Linked DNA regions of Homo sapiens. The protein of the gene in region 6 interacts with the protein of the main gene of each other region in a biochemical or structural test. Each region holds a gene or a part of one and is shown on either strand. Other genes may lie near its edges.

Evidence for each region.
Region 1: of the proteins of MAP3K1 (region 6) and MINDY3, one has a biochemical effect on the other in vitro, tested with the Homo sapiens proteins (one large-scale study listed by BioGRID).
Region 2: of the proteins of MAP3K1 (region 6) and NOTCH1, one has a biochemical effect on the other in vitro, tested with the Homo sapiens proteins (one study listed by BioGRID).
Region 3: of the proteins of MAP3K1 (region 6) and FAF2, one has a biochemical effect on the other in vitro, tested with the Homo sapiens proteins (one large-scale study listed by BioGRID).
Region 4: of the proteins of MAP3K1 (region 6) and RNF141, one has a biochemical effect on the other in vitro, tested with the Homo sapiens proteins (one large-scale study listed by BioGRID).
Region 5: of the proteins of MAP3K1 (region 6) and PAK1, one has a biochemical effect on the other in vitro, tested with the Homo sapiens proteins (one study listed by BioGRID).
Region 7: of the proteins of MAP3K1 (region 6) and ZFAND5, one has a biochemical effect on the other in vitro, tested with the Homo sapiens proteins (one large-scale study listed by BioGRID).

Annotation. Positions count from the first base shown.
Region 1 is NC_000010.11:15,839,652-15,844,064, forward strand, and holds part of MINDY3 (ubiquitin carboxyl-terminal hydrolase MINDY-3), read right to left. Parts: intron 3,622-4,413; coding exon 3,561-3,621; intron 1,949-3,560; coding exon 1,775-1,948; intron 1-1,774. UniProt on the Homo sapiens protein: Hydrolase that can remove 'Lys-48'-linked conjugated ubiquitin from proteins.
Region 2 is NC_000009.12:136,500,225-136,504,637, forward strand, and holds part of NOTCH1 (neurogenic locus notch homolog protein 1 preproprotein), read right to left. Parts: intron 3,107-4,413; coding exon 2,958-3,106; intron 2,265-2,957; coding exon 2,048-2,264; intron 1,865-2,047; coding exon 1,777-1,864; intron 1,690-1,776; coding exon 1,524-1,689; intron 624-1,523; coding exon 328-623; intron 1-327. UniProt on the Homo sapiens protein: Functions as a receptor for membrane-bound ligands Jagged-1 (JAG1), Jagged-2 (JAG2) and Delta-1 (DLL1) to regulate cell-fate determination.
Region 3 is NC_000005.10:176,496,885-176,500,384, reverse strand, and holds part of FAF2 (FAS-associated factor 2), read right to left. Parts: intron 1,472-3,500; coding exon 1,300-1,471; intron 383-1,299; coding exon 239-382; intron 1-238. UniProt on the Homo sapiens protein: Plays an important role in endoplasmic reticulum-associated degradation (ERAD) that mediates ubiquitin-dependent degradation of misfolded endoplasmic reticulum proteins.
Region 4 is NC_000011.10:10,516,838-10,521,250, reverse strand, and holds part of RNF141 (RING finger protein 141), read left to right. Parts: intron 1-2,109; coding exon 2,110-2,217; intron 2,218-4,413. UniProt on the Homo sapiens protein: May be involved in spermatogenesis.
Region 5 is NC_000011.10:77,463,675-77,468,087, reverse strand, and holds part of PAK1 (serine/threonine-protein kinase PAK 1), read left to right. Parts: intron 1-4,413. UniProt on the Homo sapiens protein: Protein kinase involved in intracellular signaling pathways downstream of integrins and receptor-type kinases that plays an important role in cytoskeleton dynamics, in cell adhesion, migration, proliferation, apoptosis, mitosis, and in vesicle-mediated transport processes.
Region 6 is NC_000005.10:56,821,642-56,826,054, reverse strand, and holds part of MAP3K1 (mitogen-activated protein kinase kinase kinase 1), read right to left. Parts: intron 1-4,413. UniProt on the Homo sapiens protein: Component of a protein kinase signal transduction cascade. Activates the ERK and JNK kinase pathways by phosphorylation of MAP2K1 and MAP2K4. May phosphorylate the MAPK8/JNK1 kinase.
Region 7 is NC_000009.12:72,358,177-72,362,589, forward strand, and holds part of ZFAND5 (AN1-type zinc finger protein 5), read right to left. Parts: intron 2,612-4,413; 5' UTR 2,603-2,611; coding exon 2,452-2,602; intron 2,046-2,451; coding exon 1,934-2,045; intron 1,346-1,933; coding exon 1,242-1,345; intron 1-1,241. UniProt on the Homo sapiens protein: Involved in protein degradation via the ubiquitin-proteasome system. May act by anchoring ubiquitinated proteins to the proteasome. Plays a role in ubiquitin-mediated protein degradation during muscle atrophy.

The DNA.
Region 1 (4,413 bases), on a different chromosome or scaffold from region 6:
AAAAAGAACAAAGCTGGGAATAAAGGAAAGAACAGGTAAAATAGATTGTTACACGGAATAAAAATTGTAATATAAATACAGTTCATTTGTCACTAAGGTAAATTCTCAAATTTTCAGTTAACAAAGTATTTCAAATGTATACATTATTTAAAAAATTTAAAATATGGTTTACTTCATGGCAACTTTTAAAATGAGATACAAAGTAAACTGGAAAAATTACTAAAATGTTTTCTGGAGGGTAATTCAATATAATATGCCCATCTAAATTAGTTACTGAAGTACCAAAGGGAATGCATTATAAGGCCCTTTAACCTATAGCAACGTGACGTATCACCACAGAACTGCATAGCATATTTCATAGTATGCACTCAGTATACTGTTAAGATACTAATGGAAAATGTTATATAAAAAGATCTTACTATTTTCTCACATCAATATACAGACTGGCTTTAAGCACAAAATCTTTAAAATACCTTTTCAAAAGATCAACAATTCCTCTTTCAAAATTTTAATATCCTAAATGAACCTATTAAGTGTGCTAACACCCACACAGTAAAACCTGGAGAATATGTTAAAACCAATCTTAGTGACACTTTGGACTAGCATCCTTGTGACTGTTTTCCACTTGTTGTCTTCAAATGTCATTATAAACTCTAAAATATGTTAAGTTCTTTTTGAAAGGCCATATTTCAAAGGCTTCAAAAGGAAGCATCATATAGCTGTTCAAATGTTCAAAATTATTCCTTGCAAATGTTACTACTATTAGAATTTGCCAGGCTTAAGGCATTTTAACTGCAGAGGTAGGAGAAAAAAGACACTGACAACACAGAGGCATTTTAGTCCAGGGAGGCAACAGCACCTTATAGATAATACTATATGGAAAGCAAAATGTGTATCCCATACAATTGAAGTGTACTTTCAGGTACGTAATCTCTTTACGAAAACTTTCCACAAAGATGATAGTTAATGTGATGCTCTGTGGGTAGAATAAGTCACTTATTTAACATAAGCACTTGGGACTACCAATTATAAAAAACCATCAACTAGCAAGATTATTCCTGAAAAGCAAATCAGAAAAGCAACTCTTAACTAGCTTCCGTACCACTAGCTGTCTCCATTTCACACTGGCAGCTTTCGGGTCAATTACATAACAATTTTCAAAAGTTAAAAACCACAGAATATATAATTTTTATGAATAATGAGAATAGCTATTATTTAACGTAAACAGCTATTATTTAACTTATCTTCAAGGTATGAAAAACTTAAGGCATAATTAAAATTGCCTTAAAATAATCTATATGTATAAAAATATCCAAATAATTCGGAAAGAAAAGAAACAGCTTGCAATGAGGAGAAATGTCCCCATCTTTGCTCTGGGAAGCAAGTAAAGATAACTTTATGAAATCTTCTGATGTCCAAAAAAATCCGTTTTTGCAATACCAAAGCAAAACATTAAGGCATCTGAAACTGAAGCATATCATTATTTCTAAATAAGAGTTCTAAAGCTCAAAAGAGATTATTATCAAGCAGAAGTTAACCAGAACATTTTTAAAAGTTTAAGAGATGCATTTTTTTTTGCAAAAATGTAGTATCTTCTAAGTAGTTAAAATAAATGATATGGAAATAAAAAATAGTGAGGCTCAGTAATTAAGCTTAAGCTGGAAAAGAATACATGTTATGAAAATTTTAAGTAATTTTTTCTTCAAAATATTCAATAGATTCATTAAAACAAAGGAACAAGAAAAAAACTTCAGGAAATAAAAATATATCTTACAAGAATGTTCCACTTGGCAACTAGACTCTGCAGGACTCCCAGAAATACTAGCAGTTTCCTCAGTTGTCTTTCCTCTTAACCATGAAACCAAGCAGTATGATCCAGAGTGGTCACAACAAGCACTTTCTAAAATATCACACAAGGTATGACAAAGGAGTTCCTTCTGCTCTTCCTCTAAAAATAACCAAAGCATAAGTTATAATGGTTTCCTCTGGAAAAAAAAAAATTCTGTCATGAATAACAATAGTAAGAATGGGTTAATGATGAAAATCAAGCATTTTAAAAATGGGGGAAAAATCTCTAAATAGATTTTAAATTATGTCTTAGAAAAACAATGTGTTTGTGGATTAAAATATCACCACTTTAAATAAAGCCATCCAAATAACACCACCAAGTAGAAAAAGAATACTGAAAAATGCAGAACTAAACATTATGAAAGATCATAATGTGACACTGATCATCACTTTCTTAAAACTTTAGCAACTGCAGCATTTAAGCCAAGAGGTTTCCTCTACTGAAGAACTGAGCACAATGTAAAGGCCTGTTGAAACCTCTATTTTTTTTCCCTCACATCTGAATTAATCTAACGTCTATGATCACCCCGTCCCAAAGGGATAAGAATAATGAGATGAGAGACCGTCAGCACATATGTTACCAAAGTCCATTACATCAGCAGAAGCCAGTGGTTAGAATACAGATTTGAGCATTAGAATTTTATAGAAAATGGCGCAAATGCTCAGACCATCTCTTTATGAACCTTAGCCACACTCTTTTCAAGCAGTATTACTCTCAAGAAGTAGTATTACTTTCTGAAACTTTCAAAAATTTTATGATACAAGGAGGTTTCTGTCTCTCCTAATGGATTAACAGTTCTTTAACTGCAGGAACTATGCTGTTCACTTTCTAATCACCACAGTATTTATGACACTTATGACAATGCTTTACAAATGTTTTATCAAAGTGAATATAGTGAATATAGTATAAGAAATAGTATAAATTTTATTAAAAGTTCATTTCAAAAATAGTATCTCAAATAGTTTCTTCTCTACTAAAATTTGTTTTGTATTTCACCTATTAATTTAAAACTTATGGAAGTGATCCCTTAACTCTTAAATTCAAAATCATTAGTAGATTCTATAGTCATGGTTTGGAATGTAAGCTGTTACATCCTTAGATACAAAACTGGGATTGTAATGTGTCCTAACTTCTTCCAGAATTTACTGTGAGGTTCACAGGAAATTGTGTAAGTGAAGGAAAGATCTTTGTAAACTGTCACGTGGAATGCAAATTCTTGTTATTATAAGGTGGCACCACACATCTCTCTGGGTACAGAAGCTCATGTTACAGAAGCTATGACAGCTTCATTTGCAATTTCATCCAAAATTATTTGCAGTATTTGCATTGTGTAAGGCATTATACTAAAACATGCAGGAATATAATGATAATTCTGAGGTCTTGCCCACAGCTAAATAAGACTACAAAAAAAAAAAAAAAAAAAAGACTGTTCTTTATGGCATGCTGCCACCTAACAGTTCTAGGAAATGCACCGTGTTTTACCAAGAGGCCAAACGTTTTTCCCTTAGTTATACCATCATGTCTTATAACCCCTGGTTAGAAAGCCAAATTTGGAAATATGGAGTCACTGTTCATGAAACTTTCTAAAACATTTTAAAAGGAAACCTCAGGAAAAAAAATTCCCACTGATACTTGACTTTCTCAGATAATTTTAGATCATCTCTATTAAAACAGAGGAGGAAGCAAAAGTTTTAAAAGACAGCTATCATACCTGAACAATCCCGCCAAGAAGACTTCTCCGAAGAAAACAGGAGCTTCTTCAAAAGAAATGCCTTTACACAATTAAAGCAATAATTAGTGAAATGCATTATAACCATACATCATATCATTCTTCAATTTTAAAGTGGGAAAAAATAATGTGTACTCCCTTTCTAATCTTTTGACTAGTTCTGTAAAGATGTCAAATGGGTTCCCCTCACATTTGACAGGAACTGTGCAGTTATTTATTCAGAGTATACTGCTATAAACTTGATTCTAGATTCATAAAATTCTTCTTCTTCCACAATACATATTTTCTGACAAGTAGAAGAACTAACTCACATAACAGAATAACTGAAAAGCACACAAACTTACTGCTCTATTCACAAAGTGAAAGCCCTGTAGAACACGAACAAGTCTACATTTCATTTAGATTCCTTCAGGTAAAAGAAATCTAAATATAAAAGTGGTTCTGTTCCCTTAGTCTTCATCTGTGACACAAGATTAACACTATTAGAGTCATCACTTTATTATCAGGAGCTCAAGTTTAACTCAAAAAGGTACAAGATTCAGAAGAAAAGACAAATGGATTTCTAAACTTCCCCTTAAGCGAGTCAACGATGTTACATTGGTTATTTGATAAAAAGCTGCACAGTGAAGTGTCTACTTCTCAAAGTGTAGTTCAACGGTAGCTATATCCCAGTCACCTGACTTGTTTAAATTGCAGTTTCTTGGGCTCCACCTATTCTCTCTGAATCTCTAGAGGGCAGGTCCAAGAAAAAACAGGTTACAATGACGACTTTTCCTCACCTGTGTTTGAAAGTATTAGTGTACAGATTAGGAAGACTGCTTTTTATCAGGCAAAC
Region 2 (4,413 bases), on a different chromosome or scaffold from region 6:
AGCAGTGGAACCTGGACCTTGAGCAAGGCCCACAACCCTGATGGAGCCTGTTTTGCTGGGGGTGGGGAGGTGCTGCCTCACTCAGCAGATCCCCCAGGCCTCCTGCCAGACCCGCCTCTGCCTGACTTCCCTGGAGAACACAGATGGGCCCGACGCCCTCCCCCTCGCACCTCGCTGACTGCGAAGGTCCCAGGTGGAGGCACCAGTTGTCCCGGACTCAGCTGTGCTCGGGGTCAGGCTCCCAGGGCCACGTAAGCCTGGCCACTGCCCCAGACCACCAGGCGGCCCTGAGGAGGGCAGGTGGGCACACAGGCAGCCACTGCCTACCTGGAAGACACCTTGTGCGTCGGCAGACACAGCCGCATGCAGCGGGGTGCGGCCCATGTTGTCCTGGATGTTGGCATCTGCGCTGGCCTCCAGCAGGCGCTTGGCGGCATCAGAGCGTGAGTAGCGGGCGGCCAGGTGCAAGGCGGTCTCGCCCGTGCGGTCTGTCTGGTTGTGCAGGCTGGCGCCCTGGTAGATGAAGTCGGAGATGACGGCCGGCGCGTCCTCCTCTTCCTCGCTGTTGCCCGTCTCCAGGCCGCCCCCGCTGCAGGAGGCGATCATGAGCGGGGTGAAGCCATCTGCAGAGGCAGAGACGGGTGCTCAGTCTGGAGGGCCGGTCCCCAGCTGCAGCCCAGGGGGAGGGGGGCAGCAGCCCCAAGCTCAAGGGGCCACGGTGTGGATGCACCACCCAGCACTTGGTGGCCCCGTGCACACAGCCACCAAGGGGCAGCTGAAGTCCGCCTGGGCTGCTCAGTGGACAGAGCCGAATCCAGCTTAAACTCCTGGCGGGCAACTGCTTCCTGACCTGCCCAAGACCTGGCACCCAAAATCCACCCAGGAAAAAGAGGACCCCAGAAGCATGCAGTTAGAAAATTAATGCTTCAGCAGGATGCGGAGGCTCACGCTGTCATCCTAGCACTGGGGGAGGCCGAGGTGGGCGGATCACCTGAGGTCAGGAGTTCGAGACCAGCCTGGCCAACATGGTGAAACCCCATCGCTGCTAAAAATACAAAAATTAGCCAGGTGTGGTGGCAGGCGCCTGTAGTCCCAGCTACTGGGGAGGCTGAGGCAGGAGAATTGCTTGAACCCGAGAGGTGGAGGTTGCAGGGAGCCGAGATCGTGCCACTGCACTCCAGCCTGGGTGACGGAGCGAGACTCCATCTCAAAAACAAAAAAAAAAGAAAAAAAAAAAGAAAAAGAAAATCAACGCTTTCCATGTCTCAAGAAGGTTTCAGAAAAGAGTAATTTACAGGGACAGAGTGGCCCTGCGGTATCACCCCAGGAAGGGGTTGGTGGAAGAACAGGAGGACTCCAGGACCCCCCCACGTCTACTCTGAATGGGAAACACCCCAAGGATGAAAGCTCTCACCCCCAATTCTAAGTTTCCAGAGTATCAACTGTACCCCAGCCTCGGGGCTTAGGGGAGAGAGGCAGGTGGGCCACGGGGCTAGGGAAGCCCTGGCTGCTGGCACCCTTACCAGGCCCGCGGACATTGACGTCCATGCAGTCGGCGTCAACCTCACCCTGGGGCGGTGTGGGGGCCATGGCAGACATGCGCAGGTCAGCGGCATCCAGGTGCTGCTGAGTCCACTGCCGGTGGTCTGTCTGGTCGTCCAGGTCAGGCAGAACCACGGGCTCCTCGAACTACATAGAGGGAGTGAGCAGAGCCTGTCAGGGCAGCCCGGCAGCAGGTGCCCGGGAGCCCAGGAGCCCGGGAGCCTCGCGACTCACCCGGAACTTCTTGGTCTCCAGGTCCTCGTCCCCCCACTCATTCTGGTTGTCGTCCATGAGGGCACCGTCTGAAGCGTTCTTCAGGGGCCTGGGGGGTGAGGGGTCGAGAAGTGAGGCTGAGCGAGCTCCCTAGGAAGCCCCCAGAGACCCCTGGCCCGGGCCTGGCGTGGGAGGTGGGCCCTGGGTCGGGAGGGGCAGACTCCCGGTGAGGATGCTCGGCCAGGTCCCACCTCCCACCGGGGACCCAGAAGCAGGGGCGGCGTCCGCTCACTTGAGGCCCACGGAGTCCTCGCCGAGGGGCTCCCGCCGCTTCTTCTTGCTGGCCTCAGACACTTTGAAGCCCTCAGGGAACCAGAGCTGGCCATGCTGCCGCCGGCGCTTGCGGGACAGCAGCACCCCGCAGCCCACGAAGAACAGAAGCACAAAGGCGGCCGCCGCCACGTACATGAAGTGCAGCTGCGCCGGCGGGGGCGGCTCCACGGTCTCACCTGCGGGCACGGGGGCCAGGGGCAGGTGCCCGGACATCAGGCAGCGGCTACGCAGCAGGCTGGTGGCCGGGGGGCGGCGGACTGGCTCCGCGTCCGGGCGCCTCCTCACCCACTCTCCTCCATCCCGCCCTCCAAAATAAGGTCATTTTCTACGCGATTAATCAGAATTGCAAACTATCGCTAAATTCTCTCCTGCACCAGCCGACTCTATCTGGAGACGGCTTTTACTTTTTTCTCCTTTAAGGAAGGAGGATTAGTCAACTTCAAATCGCTGCACTCGCACTGAGCTGTTAAGACAAAGGATTTAGAGGGATTTTCAAGATACAAACTTCAACACTTCACATGACACCGATCAATTCTTCTCTCTCTCTCTTTTTTTTTCTTTAAAAAAAGCCGTAATGATTTTGAAATAATACCCAACAAAGAAAATTCAGGAGGAAAGGGTGGGGAGAGAAGCAGGCACCCACTTTCCCGTGGCTGGACTCGTTCCCAGGTGGCTCCACCGGCAGCTGTGACCGCCGCAGGTGGGGGCGGAGTGCCATTCAGAAAATTCCAGAAAAGCCCTACCCCAACTCGGACGGCAACGCTCACACCCGTGGGTAGCAACTGGCACAAACAGCCAGCGTGTCTGGGGCACGGGGGGATGGCACCCCCTGCAGGCAGAGCCTGTTCCCGGGATGGGGCCACACTTACTCTGCACGGCCTCGATCTTGTAGGGGATGTTGAGGCTGCCCAGCGAGGCGAGCGCTCCCAGGAATGCGGCCACGTCGGTGGCACTCTGGAAGCACTGCGAGGAGGCCTGCACACACTGCCGGTTGTCAATCTCCAGGTAGACGATGGAGCTGGGCGGACAATCAGAGAGGGGCTGGGACCCGAGGCTTCCTCCTCCCCCGCCCACCGGCCAGGGATGCTGCCGCAGGACACTGAGGCCCATGACGCCACAGTCAGGACATGGTGAGGCAGCCTGGGGTGGTGGGAAGCCAGGTCTGACAGCAGCTACCCTGCAGGGGACTGGTGCCAGCCCCCCGACTCCGGCCAGTGCTGATCACGGCTCATCCCAGATACCCACCAACGCGCTCTCCCTGGCCCGCCCTGACACCCTCTCTGGCTCCTGCTGGTGCCACAGACACGTTTCCTCATCTCAGGACAGAGTATGTGCCAGGAGCCCAGTCCTCCCCCAGGAGCCATCCCCAGGCCCTGCAGGAAGCACAGGCGTGAGGTGGGGGTGGGTGCAGCGGTGGTGGGCTGTGTGGTGAGGCTGGCTGGGGGTGAGCTCTGCTCCCCAGGACTGGGTTCCCGTGAGCAGGATCCCATCCAGCCTGTGAGATGATGCTTCTGACCTCCAGGATTGCTCCAAGCCAGCAGAACTGACAGGCAAACCCACCAGGGTCAGGCACACGAAGGGCACAACCAACCTGGCTCCTGGGTCCAGCTGCCCCAGATCGAGTAGGCATGGGCGGGAGCCTTGTGGGGTGCCCCCTGCACTCAAGCTGCTCCTGCCTGTGTTCTCCCACCGTGGGACCCCCCACCCCCACCAGCTCCTCCTCCAACTGCAAGGCCCAGCAATGCCCCCTCCCAGGACCTCCACCTGCCTCCTCTCCAGCCCAAGCCAGGCAGACGCCATGACCAAGCGGCATTCTTGTCTGGGGTGGGGCTGTTCAGCCCTGTGGGAACCCCTGGAGAGCTGAGTGTTTTGTTTTTTACTTCTTTTAATACTTTTTTAAAAAAAACAGAGACAAGGTCTCCCTATGTTGCCCAGACTGGTCTCGAACTCCTGGGCTCAAGGGCTCCGCCTGCCTCAGCCTCCCAAAGTGCTGGGATTACAGGTGTGAGCCTCCTCGCCTGGCAGAGGGCTGAGTTTTAATCAGTGTAGTATCCAGTGCCTAAGGCACAGCTCAATCTCAAAATCACCTACTGGGCACAGGAGTGCCGCCTGTCCAGGGGAAGGCAGTGGCCCAGGAAAAGGGTGTGGCTGTGGGGTCAGGGCCCTGAGCTGGAATGCTGCCTCTACTCCTTGCCTGCGCAGGCCCTGAAGTCCCAGGTCCTCTCGGAACCTCCGTCTCTTTTACCATAAAGTGGGGAGAGTACTGCTTGCCATGGCGCCGGCCGTGAGGGGCAGGGAGGCCGTCGGGGAGGGCCCAGGAGAGTT
Region 3 (3,500 bases), about 120 Mb from region 6:
TAATTAAACAAAAACTTAAAAATTGCTTTGAGTTGGAAACTAGAACTGAAGGAGCCTACAGCAGTCCTCGGTACTCTTCCTGGTGTCCACGGATGGCATACCCATCTCTCTCTCTCTCTCTCTGTTCCCTGTTCATCAGAGCAGCAGATACACCAACACCACTCTCAAGAGTCAGTAAAAGCTCCAAATCTATAGCCCAGATGCTACATACACTTCACAGAACTTAGGTGGTCCTTACTGTTAGAGACTGTGAAAAGTGGAATCGTCTCTCTACTCGAGAATCATTAGGTAATTTGAAGATGATCTTGACACTTTCAGGGTCATCAGGGGAAGGTTCAGGGGGCAGGCATTCCAACTTCCTTTCCTTTTCCTCCTGTAAATTCTGCAGAGACACAAAGCAAAGGTGAGGCTACAGCTCAAGAAATAAATACAATGACCATGTAGCTTTATTACGCAGTCGTCAGAAGAAAAATTAATGACTAAGTATTCTAAGAAAAACCTCTCAGGAATAGTCAAAAACAACCTAAATTTAAAGTACAATTGCATCTCATGTATTCTTTATTATGTCTAGGTATTTATTTGAGAAAAAGGAGAAAGGGAGCAGGGTGCCATGGTATGTGCCTGTAGTTCCAGCTACTTCAGAGGCCACAGCAGGACTTCTTAAGCCCAAGAGTTTCAGGGTGTAGTGCTCCATGATTGCACTGGTGAATAGCCACTGCACGCCAGCCTGGGCAACACAGTGAGACCCTGTCTCTTAAAAAAAAAAAAGAAATAAAAGGAAATGACTAAAAGACACTGGTTATAGGTAAGCGGTAATACATAATCAAATAAGATAATGTATATCTCAGTCTGATTGCTAGGGAACAAAAACAACAACAAAACAAAACAAAACAAAAACAAAAAGATAATGAGTAAAATGCCAAATCAGCTAATACTGGTATTAAGAATGAATATTTAGGGCCAGGCATGGTGGCTCACGCCTGTAATCCCAACACTTTGGAAGGCCAAGACAGGCAGATCATGTGAGGTCAGGAGTTCGAGAGCAGCCTGGCCAATATGGCAAAGCCCGTCTCTTTTTTTAAATTTTTATTTAAAAAAGAATGAATATTTAAATGGTATGAAAAATTTAAATCACCCCTAATTCCAACATGTTGTAATTTTTTCTTTCCTTTTTCCTTTTTTTTTTTCCCTCTTAGTCTGTTTAAGGTGGCTATCATTTTTTCCTTTCACACTTAAGACCAAGATGGCAAAGTCTCGGCAGTTTGGGAACCACAGGGAGTAAAGCCACACGTCCATTACCTGCCGCCGTCTCTCCTCTGCCAACTTTTGCTGTTGCACCTCCTCCTCCTTCCGCCGCTTACGCTCCCGCTCCTCCCGTTTCTTTCTTTCTTTCTCCTGGTCAGCTCTGAGAGAGGCCAGGTAGGCCTCATCCTGCTGTTGTCTCAGCACTTGGGTCTGGTTTCTTTCTTCCCTGTGAATAGATCAAAAGCAAGAGAAGAAAAACAGCACTCTCACAAAGTTCTGTGTTTTCTTATATTGAAATCTTCTGTGTGTGTGTGTGTGTAAAAATGTTGATATTCTTAGCAGATGACGATTTCACACTGCCATAAGGGATTCCAAAAGCAGAGCGTGGCAGAATCTGAATAAGCCACCTTTTTTCTCAGTTTAATTTGGCAGAAAAGGAAACAGCAAGCTTTCCTCTCCTCTTTTAAAATAAAACTTTTCCCCTAATTCTAACAAATGTGACACAGTACTGTTATTATGAAGGGATCATCAATATCATATTTTACAAGTAAATACCATTTTGGGTGACTGCATTTTTGTACTGATCTCATAAAACCAAAACACACACATATATATCCATACACACATTGTAGCAGATCTGAAAATGTAGAGTTTTCAGAGTCATTCAGAGAATCACTAATCAAAGATAAAACATTATAACATTTGGCATATCTCCTATTTTCTCTCCAACAAATTTCTGTTTTCTCTTAGCCAAAATATTTAGCCAATCAAAATAGTTGAACAGATTTTATCTTTAAAAATTAAGATAAAATTTACATGCAGTGAAATGCACAGATCTTAAATGTACAATTCAATGAATTTTGATAAATGTAACCATGTAATCACCACTCCAATCAAGACAGAACATTTCAGTTACCTCGGAAAGTTTCCTGTTCTATACATTTTTTTACACAGTTAAAATAACGCTATTATTTACAGGATTTTGATCTTGCATTTTTCTTTTTTTTTGGAGACAGGGCTAGCCTGTCACCCAGGCTAGAGTGCAGTGGTGCGATCATGACTCACTGCAGCCTCAACCTCCTAGGCTAAAGCAATCCTGCCACCTCAGCTTACAGGCGTGTGCCACCACGCCTAGCTAATTTTTGTATTTTTTGTAGAGATGGGGTTTCACCATGTTGCCCGGGCTGACCTCAAACTCCTGAGTTCAAGCAATCTTCTTACCTCAGCCTCCCGAAATGCTCGGATTACAGGTATGAGCCAACATGCTCGGCCTGATTCTGCATTTTTCTAATATGTAACAAGCATGTCCCCATGTTATTAAAAACTTTCCATAAAATTTAAGTTTGTTTAACTTTCTTGAGGGCAAGTTGGCATTACAAATCAAGAGCCTTAAAATATACTTATATTGATTGTCTCACCCAGAAACTGCACTTCCAGGAATTTAAATTTTAATCTAAGGAAACCATCACAAATTGCAAAAAATTATCTCCCTATATGCTAATTATAATAGTAACAAACCGAAAATAATCTAAAAATCCAACGAGAGTGGCCTGGTTAAATTATGATGTATTTAGATAATGGAATGTTATGCAGTAATTTTTAAAATGTGGCAGAATATTTAATGATGAGGGAAAAGGCCGTGATATATTCTTACATAAAGAAGGGTTGTAAAAAAGTATTATCCCAATTTTACAAATAAATGTGTACGTATATAGGGGTGTGTGTTGTGTATAAAATTAAAAAAATTTATAACAATGTTCAAGTGGTGGTAGGTTTATCAGTGATCTTAAATTTCTTCCTTGTGCTTTTTTGTGGTTTTAGGATTTCCTATAATTAATGTACATAACTTATGTAATGGAGAGGAATTATAACCATTCCACTTTTTTTTTTACATCGAAGTTCTTTATATTATATTCAGCTATTCTAAATGCCACAATATACATTCTTGAGCACAGAGGCCTGTCTTTGTTTATTCATTCATTTATTATTTTTTAAAGACAGAGTCCTGCTCTGTCATCCAGGCTGGAGTGCAGAGGCACAATCAGAGCTCACTGCTGCCTCGAACTCCTGGCCTCAAGCAATCCTCCTGCCTCGGGCTCCCAAGGACCTGGGACTACAGGCATGTACCACCATGCCTAGCTAATTTTTTCTTATTTTTTGTAGAGATGGGGTCTCGCTTTGCTGCCCAGTCTGGATTCAAGTAATCCTCCTGCCTCAGCCTCCTAACGTGCTAGGATTTCAGGTGTTAGCCACTG
Region 4 (4,413 bases), on a different chromosome or scaffold from region 6:
GCAGAGAGATGATGATGTTTTGAGCTGAGTTACCAAGGTTGGAGCTTACTAAACTCACAAGGGCAGTTTCAGGAAAGGAAAATACCATCTGCAAAGGTATATGGCTCATTCAGGGGCTCTCTGAATTGTGGCTGGAGCAAAAGGTTTGAAATCTTTTTTCTTCCCAAGAAGATGAAAGAGCTCCTGGAGGACAGAAACTGCTTTTTATTCCCTTTGTATCTCTCACAGCACCTGATACTTAAGACTAAACTATTCTTTCACTCATATGCCCATTATCAATGTCAGCATTGTAAGGCCCTGATGGCAGGATCCATATTTTAGGGAGCTTTGTGTTACACATAGTGAATAAATTATATGGTCATGTATCACCTAACAATGTTTTGGTTAATCACAGACTGCATATGTGATGGTGGTCTCAAGATTATAATGGAGCTAAAAAATTCCTATTGCCTGTGGACGTCGTAGCCATCCTAATATTGTGATGCAATGCATTACTCAAATGTTCTTGGTGATGCTGGTGTAAACAAACCTACTGTGCTGCTCATAGTATAAAAGTATAGCACTTACAATTATGTACAGTAATACTTGATAATTATGTTACTGGTTTATGCATTTATTATACTATACTATACTTTTTAATCATTTTAGAGTATACTCCTTCTACTTATTAAAAAAAGTTAGCTGTAAAACAGCCTCAGGCAGGCCCTTCAGCAGGTATTCCAGAAGGCATTGTTATCAAAGGAGATGACAGCTCCGTGCATGTTACTGCCCCTGAAGACCTTCCAGTGGGACAAGAGGTGGAGGCGGAAGACAGTGATGGTGGTGATCCTGACGCTGTTTAGGCCTAGGCTAATGTGTGTGTTATGTCTTAGTTTTTAAGAAAAAAGTTTAGAAAGTAAAAAAGTAAATAAATCTTAAAAATAGAAAAAAGCTTATAAAATATTTCTGTACAGCTGTATAATGTGTGTTTTAAGGTAAGTGTTGTTACAAAAAGAGTCAAAAAGTTAAAAGTAAAAAGTTTATAAAGTTAAAAATCTATAGTAAAGATTAATTTATCATTGAAGAAATATATTTTTTATAAATTTCGTATAGCCTAAATGTACAGTGTTCATAAAGTCTGTACACTACTGTACAAGTGCTATACAGTAATGTCCTAGGCCAAGCTTGTTCAACTCACGGCCCACGGGCTGCATGCAGCCCAGGATTGCTTTAATGTGGCCCAACACAAATTCATAAACCTTCTTAAAACATGAGATTTTTTTGCAATTTTTTTAGCTCATCAGATATTGTTAGTGTTAGTGTTAGTATATATGTGGCCCAAGAAAGACAGTTCTTCCAGTGTGGCCCAGGGAAGCCAAAAGATTGTACACTCCTGTCCTAGGCCTTCATATCCACTCACCACTACTCACTCACTGACTCACCTAGAGCAACTTCCAGGCCCGCATGCTCCATTTATGGTAAGTGCCCTATACAGGTGTACCATTTTTAATCTTGTATACCGTATTTACACAGTACCTTCTCTGTGTTCAGATACATTTAGATACACAGATACCTACCATTGTGTTACAGTAGCCTACAGTGTTCCATACAGTAACATGCTATATATGTTTGTAGCCTAGAAGCAATAGACTATGCCATATAGCCTAGGTATGTAGTAGTAGGCTAAACCATCTAGGTTTGTATAAGTACACTATGATATTTACACAGCAATGAAATCACCTAACAATGAGTTTCTCAGACCGTATCTCTGTCTTTAATGCAATAACTATATCGGTTAAATTTGTTTATTTAAGTCCAATATGATTAAAATGGGCTAAATTGTTTCCAGAAAGATTTGACTATTTCCACTTTTGCCTATGTTTTCTTTATCACAAAATGTATCTTTTATCTAGTCTTTCTTTATGAAATGTAGCCCTCTTAATACTTTTTCCCTAATATATTTGCTATCCCTAAAAGATAATATTAATTTTAGTCTGATTTTGCACATGAGTCATATTGTGCTTTATACTGTGGGCATATAGATGTTTAATAATGCTTTTTAAAGCAACAAAAAGTATAAAGCATAATGACAGAGAATATAATTGTTTCAGCTCAGTTTTCACATTGCAGGGTGAAGCAGCTGACCGATGAGGAGGAGTGTTGTATCTGTATGGATGGGCGGGCTGACCTCATCCTGCCTTGTGCTCACAGCTTTTGTCAGAAGTGTATTGATAAATGGTAAGTTACCTACTGCATTCATGGGCTGGGCCAAGGTCAGTGGGATAGTGTACATGAATAAACTTTGAAAAGTGCAAAAATACTGTAGTTAAGTATGAGAGAGATTTTATTCTTTAGTACTTTGAATTTTATGGCATGCCTTCTACTGGTTAAAACTATTTTTGTTTTTACACCTAACATTTATTAAATATGGGGGTGTACCTTAGTTTTGACACTTTTCTTTTGCTGTATGAAAATTTGTGCCTGACTTAAGTCTAAAATCAAACATTTCCCTTTTTCCTCCTTTTTTTCTCCTCATTTCTACATTTATTCTGTGTATGTGTTTAGAAGGAATAAATTCTTGAATACTGGACCTCAGGGAACTTTAGAGATCAGCTAGTCAAGTTCATTATTTTACAAAATAAGACTTGAGCGTTTAGGATAATTTATAAAATACATACAATAAACTACATGTATTTAATGTACAGTTTAATATGTTTTGGCATATATACACACCCATAAAAGTTATGAATTTTTATAAATGGAATCATATAATATGTGCTTTTTTTGTCTGGCTTCTTTCATTCAGTCTAATTACCTTGGTATTTATTCATGTTGTAGCATGTATCAATAGTTCATGCCTTTTTATTGCTGAGTAATGTCTGTTATGTGGATACCATAGCTTGTTTATTCACCTATTGAGGGAAATTAGATTATTTTCCATATTTATCTATTACAAAATAAAGGTACTAGATACATTCATGGACAAGTCATTTTATGGATGTATTTTGGTTTTTTTCTTGGGTGAATACCTAGACATGGAATGGCTAGATCATATGGTATGTGTGTGTTTAACTTTTTAAAAAGCTGCCAGCTATTTTCCAAAGCAGTCTTGTGCCATTTTACACCCCCACTAGCAGCATATGAGATTGCATTGAATAAATATATCAATTTAGGGAGAGTGAATTTCTTACTAGTGCATCTTCCTATCCACATACGCTGTATATTTCTCCACTTATTTAGGTCTTCTTTAATTTCTGTCACCAATTTTTTTAGTTTTCAGTGTTGCATATCTTTGACATCTATCCCCAAGTATTTCATAGTTTTATGCTATTTTAAATGGTATTTAAAATTTCAATTTATGATTGATACTAGTATATGGAAATACAATAGATATTTGTATATCAACCTTGTATCCTGCGCCCTTATTAAACTCATGTATCAGTTCTGGTAGTATTTTTGTAGATTCCATAGGCTCTTCTTGAATGTCCGAATATCATTTTTCAAAGACTTTTTTTCTGATTCAGAATTCTAGACTTGAGAGTATTTTTTCTTTCAGTATGTTAATAATGTTGCTTCACACTCATCTTGTTTGCATTGTTTCTAATGAGAACTCTGTCATCCTTTTTTCCTCTGTAGGTAATGTGCCATTTTTTCCCTCTGTTTTTAAGGTTGTTTTCTTTTCACTGGTTTTGAGCACTTTGATTATGATGTGCCTTAGAGTAGTTTTTTCATGTTTCTTGTGCTTGGGGTTTATTGAGCTTCTTGGATTTGTTGATTTACGGTGTCATCAAATTTGGAAATTTTTCAGCCATTATTTTTTCAGATTTTTTTCTATCTTCTCTCCCCTCTCCTGTGATTCCAATTACCATGTATTAGCCCACTTGAAGTTGTCTCACAGCTCACTGGTGCTATTTTTTTCTTTCTTTTTTGAGTCTTTCTCTGGGTTTCATCCTGGATAGTTACTATTGCTATCTCTTTTCATATTCACCATTTTTCTTCAATGTCTAACTTGCCATTAATTCTATCCAGTGTATTTTTTTAACCTCAGATAATTTTCATTTCTAGAAGTTTGATTTGGGTTTTTATTATCTTTCATGTCTCTTCTTACTATCTTTGAGCTTTCCTCTAGTTTTTTAACTATATAGAATATAGCTATAATAACTTTCCATTTTATCTGCTAATTCTAATATCTGTGTTAGTTCTGGGTGGTTATGATTGATTTTTCTCTTTATTATAGATTATATTTTTCTGCTGCTTTTTTGTATGTCTGGTAGTTCTCAACTGGATGCCAGACTTTGTGGCAGACTTTGTGAATTTTACCTTTTTGGGTATTGGATATTTTTGTATTCCTATGAATATTCTTGAGCTTTTTTTCTGGACTATAGTTAAGTGACTTGGAAACAGTTTGATTCTTTTGGATCTTGCTTTTGTGAT
Region 5 (4,413 bases), on a different chromosome or scaffold from region 6:
ATTTTCTAATTTATAGAATCTGCCTTTTGAATCTTTTGGGATGGCAAATGACAATGACAGTATATGCATGGCTTCCACCCTCATCTGCCTGCCTATATCTTTAAGGTCCAGCTTTCCTTATTTCCTCCTGGATTCCCACAAAGCTAAGATTGATGTCTTCCTCACTGGTGGAACCCTTGATTTGTGTATTACTGCACTTACCAAGGGAGGGTTTAAGGAAGAGCACAAAATTTGAAGTTAGACAAAGAGCTACTTGGACACTTATTTAAATCTCTATTTGTTCATTTGAAAGAAATAATACCTAACTTACAGAATTCTTGTGAAGATTAATAATATATGTAAAAGTGAATTGTAAGATACTGAGCTATATAGATGTTAGGTAGAGTAGTTTGTAATTTTATGACTATGATTGTGTGTAGCAGTGGTTTTAATTTCGGCTATGCACTTGAATTACTTGTGAAGATGTAAAGAGTTGCCTTGGCATCTCTATTTTGAAAGGTTTATAGGTGATTCTGATATGCAAAGTTGAGAAGCACTGCCTTATATTAACAATGTTTTGCATAAATGTCTTATGTAAGTATTATATGAAAAGTAATATTTTATTGCCATTTAAAGTTCATTCATTTGCTAAATACATATTATGCATCAGGCATTGTCATAGGTTCTGAATAAACAGATGAATCATAGCCTCTACCCTTGGGTTTATAGTTTCCGGGAGAAACAGACATGTGCATAGACAATTACACTACATTGAGACAAAAAATGACAAAAATATGGAGATAAGTGCAAGTGCCATGTGAACACAGAGGAAGGGCATCTGCTGCACTTGAAATGGGGGTGGCCTGGCAAGCATTCTTAAAGGAGGTGACATCTAAGATGGGTTCTGAAAAATGATCAGGGGTTAACGAAGCACAGTCAGGGAGGGGTGAGAAGAAAGGGGAGATGATGGACCCTCTTGAAAGAGAGAGCAATATGTGAGCAGAAGATTTGAGAGCCTGTTTGGGGAGCCCTGTGTAGTTTAGTATGCTTAGAAGATAGGGTGTAAAGTGGGGAGGCGTGAGAGCAGAGAGGAGGCAGGGCCCAGATGATGAAGGGCCTTTTGTATAATGTACAAAATACTTTTACTGATATTATCTGACTTTATTCTTTGGACAATCCCCTGGGTTAGCTAGGACAGGTGTTGTTTTATATTCATTTGATAGAAGAAAACACAAAGAGGTTAATTGACTTGCTGAGGCTATACAGCACAGCTAAGATCTGAAGCCAGGTTCTTATGATTGTTTAGTTCATCATGCTTTTTCTATTACACCATAGCCGTCTTAGACTTTTGCGGTGTGGTAGGGAATCAGGTAAGCTCTGTGGATATATGCACAACAATTTGGAAGCTGTAATGTGCTAGACTGATGTTGGCTAACTCATTTTACAGATGAGGAAATTTAGGAGCAGAGACATCAAGCTGTCATTTGAAGACTTTTTTTTTTTTTTGAGATGGAGTCTTGCTCTGTCGCCCAGGCTGGAGTGCAGTGATGCGATGTCGGCTCACCGCAAGCTCTGCCTCCCGGGTTCACGCCATTCCCCTGCCTCAGCCTCCCAAGTAGCTGGGACCACAGGTGCGTGCCACCATGCCCGGCTAATTTTTTGTATTTTTAGTAGAGACAGGGTTTCACCGTGTTAGCCAGGATGGTCTCAATCTCCTGACCTTGTGATCTGCCCGCTTCTGCCTCCCAAAGTGCTGGGATTACAGGCGTGAGCCACCTCGCCCGGCCTTGAAGACATTTTTAAAAATTATTACTGTGTAACCACAGCAAGTCACTTAACCGTCCTGAGACTCAGTTTTCCTTAGCTGTCATATAAATGTGTTGAATTTGATGCCAACTTCTTTGCTTGAATATTTCGACAGTGATTCTTAACCTTCTCACCTACTCCCTGCCCTCACCCTTTCTCTGTGATACACTGGGATGTAGTCCATCAGTAACAGTATTTCACTATGGAAATAGTTCCCAATGGGCTACAGGAACAAAATGTAAATTGCCAGTTTTGGGGATGGGTAAAGAGGGACTTGGTATAGTTGGAGGGGCTCTTGGTTCTCCAATTACCTGTTAGAGAATTACTATTAATATTTTATTTATTTATTTTTTTGAGACAGGGTCTTGCTCTGTCATCCAGGTTGGAGTACAGTAGCTCCATCATAGCTCACTGCAGTGCTGCCCTCCCGGGCTCAAGCAATCGTCTCACTTTAGTCTCCGAGTAGCTGGGACCACAGGGGCATGCTACTAAGCCCAGCTAATTTTTGTATTTTTTGTAGAGACAGGGTTTTGCCGTGTTGCCCAGGCTGGACTCAAGTGAACTGCCCGCCTCAGCCTCCCAACGTGCTGGAATTACAGGCATGAGCCACTTTGCCCGGCCAAGAATTACTATTTTATAACATTCCCTCCCACTTATTTTCTCATATGGAATTATCTCACCAGTCCAGAGTCTGAGATTTTTTTGGTATCCAGGATAGATTTTGCTTAATTTAATAAATTACATATGTAATTTGTAAAGTAACTTAAAAAAAAATAAAGAACCAGGTGAGCAAAATGAGAAAGCCCATTGTGATAGACTTGAAAAGTCCAAGTTTCCTGGACTTTCTAGAGATTATATATAGGATTATATATATAATTTTTGTGCTTTACTGTTTTCAAAACCCTTTTATATAGAGTCTCATTTAACTTAATTCTGTTCTTTAGCCATCATATTTTTATAAATGAACAGAAGTTAAGTGGCATGATTATGTAGCTGGGAAGTTACAAACTGGAATCTTTAATTCATATTTTCTGTCTCCAAATCTGGTCACCTGTTCCTGATCATTTGGGTGCTGCCCTGACCAGTGGCACTTTTTAAAAAATTGTAGGTTCCTAGGAGAATGGTAAAATATATTTATAGTTCCCTCTAACTCTTTCAAAAAATCGTTTTTTTACTATCCATTGCCACTTGCCGGATAATTGACTTAGTTGACTATGTGGTAAAGGTTCCAGGACAGTTAGGAATGGCTGCTGAGTATATTCTTCACACACACACAGACACACACACAGACACACACACACACACACACACACTCTTTCATGTATGTACCAATCCAATACAGCTGGTCCCTGACTTACAGGGGTTCAACTTAATGATTTTTCGACTTTATGATGGTGTAAAAGCAATATGCATTCAGTAGAAACCATACTTGGAATACCCATCCAATCACTTTCAGTGCAGTATTGAATAAATTACATGAGATATTCATCACTTTATTAAAAAATAGACTCTGTGTTAGATGATTTTGCATAACTGTAGGTGAACGTAAGTGTTCTGAGTATGTTTAAGGTTGGGTAGGCTGAGCTACGATGTTTGGTATGTTAGGTGTATTAAATGCATTTTTGACTTAAAGTATTTCAGTGTAAGTTGGGTTTATCAGGTCGTAACCTAATCATAAGTCAAGGAGCATCTGTACAGCTCTATAGTGCTTCTATTTATTCCTTAATTAGACTACACATATTTATTGATTTCTTCCTGTGTGCCAAGCATTGTACTTAGTACTAAGGATACACTCATAAATAATACAGACATGGTCCTTGTCCTTGCTCTTACAAAGATTACATTCCAGAGGGTAATACAGAGAAAAGTAAGTAGATATACAAGTGGACAGTTGCAGATTTTGATAAGTCCTACAAAAGAGATAAAGGACTAATGTAGAGAATTTTGGAGTGATAAGGAAAAGACCTCATTGAGGAAATGATGCTTTTAAACTGAGATGTGCATGATAAATAGATTTTAGTCATGCAGAACACTGAGGGGGAAAAAGCATGTCAGGCAGAGGGAACATTTTAAATGCACAAAGGCCCTGAGAGTAGGTAAAAGTTTAGAGATGTGCTGCTCAATATGGTAGCTACTTAGCCAGTGTGGCTGTTGAGCACACTGACTGATTCACATAGAGATGCACTGTAAGTGTAAATAAAATACATACCAGAGTTTGAAGACAATACTGAAAAAATAATGTAAAATAACTCATTAACTTTTTATATTGGTTATATGTTGAATTGTTAATATTTTGAATATATTGGGTTAAATGTATTTTAAAATTAATTTCACCTCTTTACAAACTTTAAAATATGGCTACTAGAAAATTTGAGATTACATATGTGGCTTTTCTTTAAGGCTAACCGTATCTTTCAGTTGGATAATGCTGGTTTACCTCAACATAGAGGAACTAAAAAAAATTATGGCTGTTGTATAGGAAGCAAGAGTAAATGGTATGAGATGAAGTTGGAGTGGGAGGAAGAGACCTTTCAAAACGCTACCCTGTGTAATATCCTAGTTAATCCGAAGGGACTGAGAGGGGATTATCAAGTCTGATTTTATAGATGGAGACAGTAATTGCCAAAG
Region 6 (4,413 bases):
TTTCAAATGCCTTATCTATGTATTCATGCCAATACTTCTTATAAAATAAATTTTTAAATAAAAATTGTTTTCTTTAAAAAAAAAAAAGAAGAACGGTCAGTTGAGGGACTAAAACTGAGCACGATGCTGAAATGACGGGAGCAGACCATTCTGAGGGGCTGCTGAAAGTGAGCAGAAGCCTGAGTCCTAAGGGTTTCTGAACTGCATTATGGAGTCTGGACTTCATTCTGAGGGTGAAGAAAAGGTTGACAGTGGGTTGACAGTGGCCTGACCCTGGGTTAGCAGTCATGGCAGTGGAGGAAGTTGGATGGATTCTCAGGCTACTAGGAGAGTGGCAATAACAAGAACTGGTGACTGATTGGAAGCTGAAGGTGTGAAAGCCAGAAGAGTAAGAGCACAGCAATTAAAGAGACAATGGCAGTGTTTACCCTGATGGGCACCCTAAACCACATGGAGATCTGAATGCAAGGATGAAGAGGCTGAGCAGGGCAGAGATGCAGCCTGGACATGTGACTGCCACAGTGCCTGGCAGAGGGGTCCCTCCTGGAGGAACTATCCTGGAGAAAGTTGTATGCAGGATTCTGTCACAAAAGCCAAGATGTCTTAGGCACCACAGTATCAATGAGTCAGCAAAGATACGGCTGATAATCTCTTAACAAATCCTTTTCTTCCTGGTTAAAGACTAGCTTTCCTTCAATCTTTGTACAAAACTTGAAATTTGGTTATTTAAGAATCTAGACCTGGCCGGGCATGGTGGCTCACACCTGTAATCTCAGCACTTTGGGAAGCTGAGGCGGGTGGATTACCTGAGGTCAGGAGTTCAAGACCAGCCTGGCCAACATGGTGAAACCCTGTCTCTACTAAAAATACAAAAATTTAAAAAGTTGGAAGTGGTGGCAGGCGCCTGTAATCCCAGCTACTCAAGAGGCTGAGGCAGGAGAATTGCCTGAACCTGGGAGGCGGAGGTTGTGGTGAACCAAGATTGTGCCATTGCACTCCAGCCTGGGCAACAAGAGCGAAACTCCATCTCAACAACAACAAAAAAAGAAGAATCTAGACCCTTGGAGCAAGAAAAATATCTTTAAGACTCCGTCTCAAAAAAAAAAATAAAAATTTTTTTTAAAAAACCGGAAAAGATCAGTATATTAGTGGTAGTGGTGATTATTATGCATTTTAAAGAAACTGCAAGGTATAAAATGACTCAGGTCAACAATAACAAAAAAGATTTCTCCACACAGATAATAGATAAGACATTCGGTAAGCAGCATCCATTTTTATGTAATTCTAAAGTACATATTTATTCAGTATCATCAAGGCTACAGAAATACATCTTACAGAACAGTTAGAGGTTTACCACTTCAAAGATCAAGACACTTTCTATAACTATCTTGGATAGTAATTTTCCTTAATCTATATTACAAGCTTTCCAACTTCACTTCACTGAGTATATTTTTAAATGGCAGAGGCTGCCCTAGATGGAACTAATTGTACCAATGCTAGGTGGCCCCCGACTGCAATGTTTTGAGTCCTATTCTCCCTCTCTCCTCTCACTGTCAGGTGTGCCAACACTGCTGCCTTTGGGGAACCTGCCTCTTGCAGGACTCACACCGCCACCCCTTCTAACTGGCTGCTTCTAATTGCTGCATGTTAGGAACACCACATGAACAACACTGCATGAACAACATCTGAAATAAGTATCAATCCTGAGCAAATGCCCTGGGAACTCTACTAAGTGTAAAATCAAAGTGCTTCAAAGCACATATTTTGTTACAGGTCCTTTGGCTGCTTAGAGTATTTTTTCTTACTTCTTAGTGCTAACCCATGTTCTAGATAAGAGAGGCTGCTGGGTTTACTTACCAACAGTAAACTTTGAAATGTTTTGTTACATGGGTTCTTGGCTTCTGCAATCTCATGGAGTACTTGCCTAACAAATATTTTCTTCAATGGAAATGTGAACTTTTATTTATCCCAAGTTGAATTATGATCAAATTAATGAATTTTGGATGAAGTAGGGTTATCAGATAAGAATTCTAAAAATGATATCTTAAGTTTAGATGACATTCTGAGAACTTTAAAAATAAGAATAATTATATTAATGCATGACACCTTTATGTGTATATTTATTCACAGATGTATGTGTGAATATATAAATGCATATATATACACACACGCACTCTTAACTCCCTATTAAGTACAGAATAATTATATACACATAGCAGACTCTTCTTACCTATAAAGTTGTCATGCAGTATAGCTATTTGCTCTCTACTACATTAAGCTGTCCTATTTCACTCGAGCCACCAGGCACGTCTACAAGTCCAGGTACCTCTGAATGAGTCTATCACAAATCTACAGTGTTGAAACACCATAGTCTAGACTTTTGCCATTTAACACCTTTTCAGCTATGTCCTAAACTACGTCTGACTAAACAGGAAAAACAGTGGATCCACTAATTTGAACATGCCATGCCATTATCCCTCTCATTCATTTATTCAATAAATATTTATGCAGTGTCTACCCTATGCCAGGCATCCTGCTAGGTGCTAGGGGGAAGGCAGTCATTCATCAAATGAGGTAACAAATGTAAAAGCACAACACTGACAGTAGGGACACCCTGCTACAAAGCCAGTCTGGGTGGATGAGGGAAAGCTTCCCTGAGGAAGTGTCAATGAGTTAAGATTTTAACAACGAGGAGCTGACTTTATGGAAAAACAGTGTTCCTGGCAGAGGGAGCATGTGAGGGCCCTATAGAAGAAGGCAGTGAGTGAGTCTGAGGAAATGAAAGCACGCAACCCTGCCACGGAACAAGGGCAAGTGTGAGCTGAGATGGGCCTGGAGAAGCAGACAGGGGCCCAACCGGGCAGGGACTCGGTCAGGCATGTTAAAGATTTCCTGGTCTTTATCCAAATGGAAGCCATCTGAACATCTTAAAATTAAATTACATTTACTTTTCTGGAGGGAGGAAGTTATGATCAGATTTACATTTGGAAATGATCACTCTGGCCACCTAATACAGATTGGAACGGACAGCAAAGGAGAAAGGACACAGGGATCAGGCAAGGAGGCCACTAAGTTAGTGGAAATGAGAGACAATGGGCACCTGGCTAGGGGTGTGATAACAGGTCAAACTGCCAGCACCTAAGGATGGTCTGAATCTGACGAGGTGAGAGGAGGAGGTGTCAAGGGTGACTCCTGGGTTCTGGTTCTGCCATTTAATGAGCAGGGAACATGTTAGGAGAAGGTTTAGGGAAGATCTTTAATTTGGTTTTAGACATCTGACTGCGCAGAAGTCATGTAGCCAGGTGTAGGTCTGGACTTTAGGAGAGATCATGGTTAGGACAATAAACTCTGCAATCATTTGTAAATGGTCCATAACTGATCTAAGGGCATTAATAAGACTGGGGTGGGGATCGACAAGACAGAATGAGAGAAGGCCTAGGACCACCCTGGGAATCTTCCAGTATCAATGTTCAAGAGAATGAAGATGGGCGCCACGGAAGAAGTGTCATGGTTAAGTAGAAAATCAGGAGGGGCTTACCAATTAACGCAAATAATTAGACACTTTCAAATACCAGGAATTCAGTTTTCTCAATATTTGACAGTTTGAGCATGGCTCCAATTATTTTGTAACTACACTAATTATTAGAAGGCTCACATTACATAAAATTGGTCAATATTATCAATGACTGCTTGCTAAATGCCAACTACTGCTATTAAACATCAAGCAATGGTCTGGCCGCAGTGGCTCATTTCTGTAATCCCAGCACTTTGGGAGGCCAAGGTGGGTGGATCACTTGAGGTCAGGAGTTCAAGACCAGCCTGGCCAACATGGTGAAACCCTGTCTCTACAAAAAAATACAAAAATTAACTGGGCATAGTGGGGCATGCCTGTAATCCCAGCAAGCTACTCGGGAGGCTAGGCAGGAGAATTGCTTGAACCTAGGAGGCAGAGGCTGCAGTGAGCAAAGATTGCGCCACTGCACTCCAGCCTGGGCAACAGAGCAAGACTCCGTCTCAAAAATAAATAAATAAATACCAAACGATATACAAAAACTCCTAAAAAAAGACAGTTCTTGCCTTCAAAACTCGTCTTAAGCTAGATCATGATTAAAATCTCACTACAGTAAGTTAATCTTCAGATATACTAATTTAACCACTTTTGGAAAATTAATTCATGTTAACATTTCTGGGTACCTAATATTCATGGGTGCCAGACACTAGTCTAGATGCTGGGAGATGGTGCAAAGAATCAGATAAAGTTCCTGGTCTGTTAACAACTGATGTTTAGTATTCAGAATACCATAAGACCAGTTTGAAGATTATGTGTTAACATATAACTTAAATTATTGTTTAGGCAATGAAGAAAAGTAAAGCCAGACACAGTGGCTTGCACCCATAGTTCCAGCTATGTGG
Region 7 (4,413 bases), on a different chromosome or scaffold from region 6:
AATGAATCTACTGGGAGAAATAGCCTAATATTAGACTAAACGAACAATATTCTACCTACTGCTACTGTGACAACATTAATGTTTATCCTGATGTCATGAGGATAAAGAATAATCTAGGGGAATAGTTGTATGGGGTAGAGGGAGGGTGTCAGCCATTTCTTTGGCCACATCTGAAAAATGAACTACGGCTCCTGAGACAAGGGAAGAAGGGGGAATAAGAAAATGACACAGAAAAGGCAAATAGCAGTGAATCACAGAATGCCTACTAAGTAATAATAAATGCAGACTAGCTCTAACCCAAGACTATTCTTCCAAGGTCAGAGTAATTTTGTATTTAAAAACCAAAACCAAAAACAAAAACCCAAACAAAGGCATCACGGGCAAACTAATGTGGTCAGTTTAAGGATGGAGCTCATTTCAAAATGCCAAATATAGATTCACCTGCCAAACTTGAGAATTTGGCCTTAACTTTGTAAGATTAATACAATAAACAAACTTGACTGCTGTTAGCAAAAGCCAGCCTCCAAAGCAGACTGTATAACCACTGACAGTATTTTTTCACAACAGAAGTTTTATATTGCATTTAATCAGCACTCTGCCAAAAAAGAACAAATTGATAAAATAAGCTACGTGCACTATATAAAGCACAGAAATCTTTTTGTTCTAGGGCCTAGTACAGGTAATTCAAGTCAGTCTTCTTCCACCATCAGGGCACTTCTGGTTGTGCTATATAAGCAAAGTTTCCAAAGTCACCATATCTCATGAAAACCAAAATGCCTTTCCACACTGAGTTTCAAACTCCCACAAAATATGATAGGAATATTGTACTTCAAATAAGTTCTAGTGTTCAAATATGTTGTTCTACTTAAAAGTTTTCCACAACATTGACAATATCAAAACTAAAGTTACTGCTTTTGGTTATAAAATTATTCCTTATACCCTTGAAATTTAACTTCATCAAGTTTTTAACACATCCAATCTCCAGATTACAGACTTTGCCCATTATGCACAAGGGTAGTGCAGGGGATGAGCAGAGAAGAAACTGAGAATAAATATGACTATTTTACACTTCAAGATACTCATACTCAAGATACTTTTAAAGATAGTAGTTCTTTGCTTGGCCTATATTTTATGGCTCTCCCTCCTCTTTGGTCCTTCAATGGGAAGGAAAGAATCCCCCCACCAGCCATTTCTTGCACTATCAAATTCAGAACTGAACAAGTATTAAATGAAAAACATACCTGGCTCTGACACCTCTGTTTTCGGGGTAGTTATTTTGTCCTCTCTTGAAATGCTCATTTCTGTCATTTGCTGAGTTACAGGCAAGGCAGCCACAGGCACATTTCTATTTGAGTTCAAGCAAACAATTTTTAAAGGTGTTAAGGGTACTTCTTGAGACAATGAATAAGTTGTCAGTTCAACTTTAAATTATAGAATATTTCCAAAATGAGCAAATGGAGCTAGATAATCTAAAGTTTAAAAAAAAATTGGATGCCCAGCACAAATGGTTGAGAAAAAAGTTTGATAAATGGCTCATGAACTCGAGGCTGCATTTTGTATAGGTTACCATATTTTACAACCAGCTAGGGATTTTTAGCTGTGCCTGTAACTTGTTTAAGGGCAAAAGGGCAGCTCTGCCAAAACACCTTGTCTGGCCCAATAATATTCTACAGTCTCACTCGACAATCCCTAAACCTCAATTACAAAGAAATAAAAAAGCACAGCATTTCCAACACAGTATCCTTGAGGGGGTTAGGGAGTCAGGTGTAAGTAACACACATCTTTACTCAATGACTTAAGAGTCATGTATTAAAAGACACTGAAATCCTCGATTGCAAAGCCAAGGGTATCTATTAACTTATTATTGGACCAGTACAGACATCTTGATTTCTTCTTTGTAATATCATAAAAACTCTGAAACGTTCAATCTTACCTTGATTTTTCAGATGTGCTGCCAGCAGCACCTTCACAGTTGTTTAAGCTAGTGTCTGCTCTCTGTACAGATGCAGAATCTGAGGTAGGACTGTTGGAACCACTAGCTGTTCCTATTTAAAAAAAGGATTTGTAAGGAACCAATGAACACTACAAAAACTCACTTAGTATCAAGACGTAGTAATAAATACTTGCATTTAATTAGGTTAGTGATATAAGCATTCACTGTGCTGTAATCCTATACTTGAGTATCCAAACAAAAAATATTAAAAAGTCAATCCAATGAACACAAGTGTGAAACAAAATAACCCCAAAAAAGAAAACTGAAAAGCTATAAGATGCTTGTAGATAGTCATTCATTCCTGATCAGTCATGTCAAGCACTTGGGCTGTTGCTTGAATTTCAAGCTCTTATCAGGTGTTCTCTCCATGTGCTTTCAGCATTCTCAGCCCCAATTCTTGGTTCTGTATTTCTGTCCACCAGTTCTTTCAAATGTGTTTTTCCTTGGAAATAACTTACCCATTGGGCTCATTCTGCCACTATTTTGCTGCCTCTGAAGATGTTCTTTGTAGCAAACTGAACACATTCCATTTGTCCTAGGATTTCCATAAAAGCCACATCCTGTGCTACACAGCATGGGCCCCGGGGTCTGGTTAGTCTCCTGAGCCATATTTTTCTGCTATAGATGAAACGAAATTTCAGAAATTAGTGTTATCACCAAAATATAGTCTAATATAATCATCGGTATACCGTTGTAATTGCTACGCAAGTTTTAACAAAAGCCCAAATTCCGTTAATCATTAAAAAGGGTGGGCAGAGATAATTATCAATATTTTGTTGCCTTTATAAAAGCAAACTGTTTTAGGACCAAAAAAAAACCCAAAAAGAAATTTTATCAATTATTAGGGTATTTTTACCTATCACTATTCTTGGTTTCAATTTATGAAAAGGTCTGTTAGCTCTCAGGGTTATGTTTTAATCAATTTGGGAAACTGGTATCTTTAACTTTTCACTCTGCTGCACTACAGGCAGACCATTTCAAATGTTTTTACTTAATTGGCTAATCACAATTATCACTGAGTCTTGATATTTATAGGTAGTTCTTTAAACTGGATGAATAAAGTTTTCTTAAAACACCTGTACATATCTGGGCTTCATCAGTAATTTGACAAATCTGCTGAGGCAGAGCATCTGTACTTTTTAATGCTGAAACATCTTCATATAAGGCTGAAAAGAGAACTGGTAGCCCTTCCTGCTACCCTGGCACCAACAAGTAAATCTCTAAGAATTTAGGGTCAGCTGGTTTACGAAACTCCTTTTACGTTCTCCATTTGAAGTTTCAGAGTATGTCAAAGCCAGTGCCTAGGAACCTGCAATACACAAATTATGAACCAGATTTCTCAGCCAAAGGCACTATTAATTTTAACAAGTGCTTGTCTTCCTCATACCAGAAAATAATAAAACCGTTCCAAGCTCAAATTCAATGTATTAAAGTCAATATATACACATAACCTTTAGTAATGGTTAATATTCAATGCTGGGTTACCAGAAAAAGCTTTACATAGCAAGCATTTGTTTCCAAGGAAGATTTGCTTTTCTAAAAGTCTTGTTAAAACGCTGTGCTAAATTATTAATAAGTTTTCCTCTGGATGAGAAAATACATATTAAAGAAAAATTATTTTAAAATAAAGTTGTGGAGGGTTTTCATGTCATCTTAAACATGTATAAGCATATGTACAAAAAGCATATTTGAGAGCATTTGCTTAAAGGAAAATTCGTGTGCTGTAACTTGTGGTCAGTCATTTTTTCCAACTACATACTAGAATACACTTTTTAGTGAGTTATTAAAAAACGATGTTTTAACAAGTATTAACTACCAAAATTAGAAGATGGGAGAAGGGGACTAACCAATTTTGACCTGGCCAGACCCCTGGTAATTATTCCCCAAAACATTTTATCTTCCCTTTTGTAAGTAAAAGTGCACCATACAAATATTAAGACAATCTAGCTTGTGTGGAGTGACCAAGATCCACAACTTACTTTTAACAACAGTATTAATTTAGTTGACACTGTCTCTTTAAATATTAACTGGAATTTAGCTGACTCATTTTGGAGCAGGGTAGTGTAAACATTTCAACATCACTTAGGAAGTTTATTAATAAACACTTTCAGCTGGGTTTTTAAATGAGCATAATAGGAGCAAAAAATGCTTTCAAATGATAAATATGTATGTATTTGCATGCCCACCACGCACAAAATATGTGTGAATGTTTGCCCTATGCATGAAAGTTGGGTCACTCCTTAAAACCAGTTTAAGTATGCTAGCTTACATTTTCTACACTGAGGCCCAGTCTCATGTGACATTGGCTTTAAAGTTTAAGGCCAAGCGATCAACCTACCTAAGTAATTTTAGTTAATCTGATTCTTAAAATATTTGTTTTAGATAAAATGGAGGATACTCCATCTAAAGATTTCACACAC